Linked DNA regions of Homo sapiens: region 1 is linked to region 2. The links come from fine-mapping of genetic effects on gene expression. A gene starts in region 2. The other region holds a variant in brackets. All regions are shown on one strand. Distances are between the middles of the regions. Region 1 overlaps TARBP1 (tRNA guanosine 2 -O-methyltransferase TARBP1). Region 2 holds the start of COA6-AS1 (COA6 antisense RNA 1).

Region 1 (2,915 bases), 50 kb before region 2:
AGCGAATTTTTTTTTTTTTTGAGACGGAGTTTCGCTCTTGTTGTCCAGGCTGGAGTGCGAAGGTGCGATCTTGGCTCATTGCAACCTCTGCCTCCTGGATTCAAGTGATTCTCCTGCCTCAGCCTCCCGAGTAGCTGGGACTACAGACATGCGCCACCATGCCCGGCTAATTTTGTATTTTTAGTAGAGACGGGGTTTCTCCATGTTGGTCAGGCTGGTCTCGAACTCCCGACCTCAGGTAATCCACCCTCCTTGGCCTCCCAGAGTGCTGGGATTACAGGCATGAGCCACTGTGCCTGGCCTAATTTTTGTATTTTTAGCAGAGACAGGGTTTCACCATGTTGGTCAGAATGGTCTCGAACTCCTGGCCTCAAGTGATCCTCTTGCCTTGGCCTCCCAAAGTGCTGGGATTAGAGGTGTGAGCTACTGTGCTTGGCCCCAGTTATGTTTAGAGTACTATATTCATATATTGCTTTCTGTAAGAAATGGAATGAAAAAGTAAAAACTGAGAAAATGGCATCAAATGTTAGGAATTGATTGCTGTGATTTGAGAGCCCGTGAAAGATTACCCCAGGATTTGCTTCCATTGTAATATATTGTTATTTCTAGATCTGGGTGTGTGATGTTTGTCTAAGACTGATGAAAATTCGTTATTTATTCAGATAAAAACAATCCAGTTAGGTTGTTTTTGAGCCTGCTAAATCATTTCTAAATGAACACTCTAGTGTCTGAAGAACAGGTTTAATAAATCTGGAGACAAGTTAGATAGGAAGGGGTAGAGTTGAGCATGGTGCTCTGTTCCCCATGTAATGTTTAAATGACAGATACAGTTACCTGTCATTTAAAGCCGAGGTCAGCGGAGTGCCTGGTCTGCTTTCTGACCTTGGTGTGGATGTATGAATGACTACAGAACTCATGGAAGTCCCTCTGTTAAAACAGGAGTATTCATCATACTTTTATTTTCTGAAGGTAGCAGGTCAGCTTTATTATATAAAACCTTGGAAATATTTTTTATGCAACAATTCCCTCTCTGTAGTGTTGGAGTCAAGGAAGATGTCCCAGAGGAAATAGTATGTTATTGGTTTTCTAAAAGATGAGTAGAGTTTAAAGTGATAGGAGCTGGGTATGGGTATTCTATCAGAACAAAAATACATGTTATAATATATATTTAGCTATTTAGATAAGGGGTCAGGGCTAGACATGGTGGCTCACGCCTGTAATCCTAGCACTTTGGGAGGCCAAGGCAGGAGGATTGCTTGAGGTCAGTAGTTAGAAACCAGCCTGGGCAACACAGTGAGTGAGACTACGTCTCTAAAAAAAAAAAAAAAAAAAATTCAGAAAAAAGAGAGAGGGGTCAGGAGGGTCTAATCAGGTGACATTTGGGCTGAGCTCTGGATGAATTAAGGA[G/A]GACACCTGGAGAGGATGCTGTCTGGAGACCAAGCGAGGAAAGGTAGTGCTGCGTGGAGGACGAGGAGGTTGCAGGCCGGCTGTTGGATTCAGCTGTCTTGGTCACCTCGACAAAGGCGTTTCATGGTGGGATGAGAATCTAAGTAGAAACAGTTCAGAAGAAAATGGGAGTTTAGCGAGTGGAGACAGTGAGTATAGAGTCTCTTAGGAGTTTGCCCTAGAAAAGGGGGAATAACAGGGGTCGTTCCTGGAGGGGAACCTGGAGTTAAAGAAGGGGCTTTTTAAAGATGGGAGATAATTGGAGCATGTTTGTATGTTGAAGGAAGTGGTGCAGTAGAGAGGGAAAAGTGACAGGGAGAGGCCAGCAATAATCACATAGGCAAAATACTAGCCAGTTGTACCCACTGGGATGGCTATCAAGAAAACAAACTAAAAATAATGAGCATTGGTGAGGTTGTAGCAAAATTGGAGCCCTCCTGCATCACTAATGGGAATACAGAACAGTGCAGCTGCTTTGGAAAACGGACTAGAAAAAGCAAAATGCTTGTCTAGAGCAGTAATTCTTAAAGTGTGGTCTCTGGATCAGCAGCGTCAGCATCCCTGGGAACTTGTTAGAAATGCATATTCCTAGGCCCTGCCCCCAGTCTACAGAATCAGAAGCTCTGGGGGTGGTGCCCAGCACTCTGTTTTAATGAGCCCTTGTGATTCTGGAGCTGATACAGTTTAAGAACTATTGGTCTAGCAATAATGAAGGCCCAGATACAGCTGGAATACATATTTTTAAATGTTTAATTTTTGTGGGTCTATAGTAGGTGTATATATTTATGGGGTGTATGAGATATTTTGATATAGGCATACAATGTGTAATAATTACATCAGGTAAATGAGATATCTGTCACCTCAAGCATTTATGCTTTATGTTACAAACAATCCAGTTATACTGTTAGTTATTTTAAAATGTACAATAACTTACTGTAGACTGTAGCCACCTTGTTATACTATGAAATACTAGATCTTATTCATTCTAAGTATATTTTTATACTCATTAGCCATCCCCACACCCTCCCCCTACCACCACTACCCCTCCCAGCCTCTGTGGCAACCATCATTCTATTTTCTATCTCCATGAGTTCAATTGTTTTATTTTTTAGCTCCCACAAATAAGTGAAAACATGAGAAGTTTGTCTTTTTGTGCCTGGCTTATTTCACTGAACATAATGACCTCCAGTTCCATCCATGTTGTTGCAGATGACAGGATCTCATTCTTTTTTATGGCCAAATAGTACTCCATTGTGTGGAATACATATTTTTAATGAAGTCAGTTGTGGCTGGTGATTTTTATTTTCTTCAGTAGTACCTGGCCATGAGTTAAACAGACTAGTAGAGAAAAGATATTCTGAGTAAAGGAGCACACTGAGTGGAACAAGTAGAAAGACAGAAGAAGATTTTGAGCTGAAAGGGAATTTTAGAATTCTCAACTTCCAGTTGAGGGTGGTGACTTGGTGAGG
Region 2 (2,915 bases):
TATCTTAACAGGTACTGGTGAAGATGAAAATGTCAAGCACTTAGCACACATGGCCACTTACTAACCTCAGTAATAGTCCTCTTTCCAATCCCCCCTTATACTAAGGACAGGGGATACAGCGCTTGAATGCCTGTCAGGGAGACAGAATCCACCATATGAACCTTTTCTTTCTTCTGCTTACCAAACTCCTTTCTTTATATTTTGGGTATATGATGACTTACAGGATTTTTGGGTGAGCAACTGGGAATGCTTTATTTCTGATAGTAGCTCTAGGTCAATAATTTTGCCAACTCCTGCCCAAGATTAAATACTACCCCTTCAGAAGATCCTGGAAAAGTCTACCAGTGAAATGAACTGGAATTTTTTGGTTACTGTTCATATGTTTGTTGTGTTTTTCGATGCTCTTTAATGTGTCAGTTGACATTCTCCAAAGATCTAGCTGATGTAAGTGCGTCAAATAAGGCTGAATTACCAGGCAAGGTTTTCTCTGCGCCTCAAAGAAACTGTTAATTGACATGCCTCAGAGAGCGCTTCATGTCAGCCTACCACTCACAGTATAAGCTCGATGTATCTTAACAGGGAAGAGAAACACATCAAAGTGTGACTTACCCACTGTTGGGGACAACTTGATTCGAAAGAGCTTCTTAACTTCTTGCATTGAGAAGCATCCTCTAAGTTCTCATCTAAACACTTCCAGTACTCATCCCGGGCCCCCCAGCAGACCTGTCTTTCCTTCATAGATGGGGCTGCCATTCCTACTGCGATGAAGCTGTTGGCCAAAATAATATTTGAGATTAACAATGAACTTTGTAATCTGAAGAGAAGATAAGGAAAGAGGAAAACCGTCAATCTCCTCTTCCTTTAAAACTAAAAAAAAAAAAAAAAACAAAAACAAAACAAAACCATGCTTAGGGATTTTGATGAGGCAACTGAACCCAATCAGTTCTCAGTGGCAGCATAAGGCCACCCGCTCTTGAGGCTTATCTCACACTGTGTGATTTGATCCCTGCTGGGGCGGCAGCGTGGGCTCAGAAAGCCCGGCTGAGAACTGTGGTTCTGTCCCAGTCGCTTAGGGCAGCTCATTTATTCTCTCCGAGCCCGTTTCCCACCAGTAAAGCGGGGACAGCAGTGCCTAGTTTACAGGGTTACTGTTCGAACCTAAGCGCTGTAGAAACAGGTGTGTGGGGGCCACAATCACCAAGCAGGCGATTGGAGTGCCACCCCGTTTTGCACAAGAGGAACCCGCGGCTCGGGGACAGTAAGGGACCTCCCGGGCCCATAGTCCACGCGCGCCCCACCCGGACCCATCAGCAAGCCGACCTCTCTGCCCGCCCACGTCCGGCTTCCTTTCGATGTCGACGGGAGGAAACTGTCACGCAGGCCACCAACCGGCGGTGGAGGGCGCGGTGCCGAGTCCTGCCACTGCAGGGTCGCCCCGCTGGCTCAAGCTCTAGAAGCGTAGACCTCCCCAGCCGCAAAAAGCAACTCACGCGGCGAAACCGCGGACTCTTTTGACCCTTCCGAGCTACCATTTACTTTCCATAGAGGGGCGGGACTTCCTGTTTCGCTTTTATCTGTAAGACCGACTTCCGGCCTTCAAGGGCAAGAGGGGTATATACGTATATATCATCGCACGGTGTGTCCCGGAAGGCTTGATATGCTAGTCCCGCGGGACAAGGCGAGCCGAGGAGTTTGTGTGGAAGTTTGCATCTGAGAGTGCGAGAGCTGGACGGAGTGTTACAGAGCCGCGATGCCTTCTCGTTTTGTTTTGTTTTGTTTTTGATACAGTGTCTCGCTCTTCCGCCCAGTCTCGAGTGCAGTGGTGAGAACACGGCTTACTGCAGCCTCAAAATCCTGGACCCAAAAGATCCTCCCACCTCAGCCTGCCTCCCAGGTAGCTGGGACTACAGGCGCACAACACCATCGCTTCTTGGATTAAAAGAAAAGGATGAAACGGGCCCCAGAAAGAGGCGGTGACGTCCCAGAACCCATGGCAGGGGAGTTGGGAAAATAAATATTTGTATTGTTTTAATCTCCCTTGTGGCTTTTTTTAACCCCCGAAACAGCAAGGTATTTTTAAAAGGGATGAAGAGAGTTGCTTCAAATGTTTTGAGACGTTGTTATTTTTAATATGTGAGTGAATATCTTAGAAACAAAATGAACAAGAAATAAAAATTTTAGAAAATATATGAGTTAATCTCTCAGCAGAGTCTTTATTAAAAAGCATGTTTATGGTCAGTCATCTGGCACCCCGTTCTCTTAATAGATCCCATCTGCTCCATCATCTAGTTCTAAAACATTTATATAAGATGCAATTTACAATTTTGCACTCAGTGCAGTTTGATCCATTCCAAATTCAATATATGCAGACTTTTCCGGGTGGCGATGTGAGGCTACGTACCACCAAATATGTGTTCTGCAATATAGAAAGTATTTCCCCCATAGTTAATGCACTCTCATAGTGGAGTTACTTTAGCTTTACCAGAGCCACCCCCTTCTTTTACATCATGTCTATTGACGTCAGTTTACATATAGATATCTTTTAAATATGACTGATGGGATATAAAAGGAATGAAAGGAAAGAGTCTTAGATGACTTCTGAGTCTAAAAAGGAAATGTGTTTTAAATTTAAAATTTATAAGTACCTAATGAAAAATACATATGAAACAAAGTGAAGTGACAGAATTACAAAGAAAAAAAATGCCTGGTCATATTGGGTAATTTTAACAGGACTTTCTCACTAATCGTTAAGACTAGCAAGAGAAAAGTTAAGGATATAGGAAACGTGAATAACATGATGTAAAAATGACGCAATTAATATGTACAGAACAACACGACCAAAATCAGAATGTACAGTTTTTTGAAAGCAGACACATCACCACAGTCAACCACATACTTAGTTATAAAGCAACTCA

Evidence for each region. PIP is the estimated chance that this variant, and not a neighbour inherited with it, causes the effect. A credible set is the group of variants that fine-mapping cannot tell apart.
Region 1: its variant is the best candidate, but not a certain one, in a credible set for the expression of COA6-AS1 in cerebellar hemisphere (GTEx, PIP 0.60).

The regions. Positions count from the first base shown.
Region 1 is chr1:234,422,167-234,425,081 of GRCh38, reverse strand. All of the region lies in intron 20 of TARBP1 (tRNA guanosine 2 -O-methyltransferase TARBP1), which reads left to right. Among named protein-coding and RNA genes, the nearest start is that of COA6-AS1, 50 kb to the right of the region's middle. The variant G/A (reference allele first, on the strand shown) is at 1,408.
Region 2 is chr1:234,372,084-234,374,998 of GRCh38, reverse strand. COA6-AS1 (COA6 antisense RNA 1) reads left to right here and starts at 1,406. Exons shown (of 2, transcript NR_125961.1): 1 at 1,406-1,576; 2 at 1,789-2,192. It overlaps COA6 (cytochrome c oxidase assembly factor 6), which reads right to left and starts at 1,543. Exons shown (of 3, transcript NM_001206641.3): 1 at 1,321-1,543; 2 at 610-769. The coding sequence starts at 1,532. RefSeq lists enhancers at 1,160-1,709, 1,531-2,355.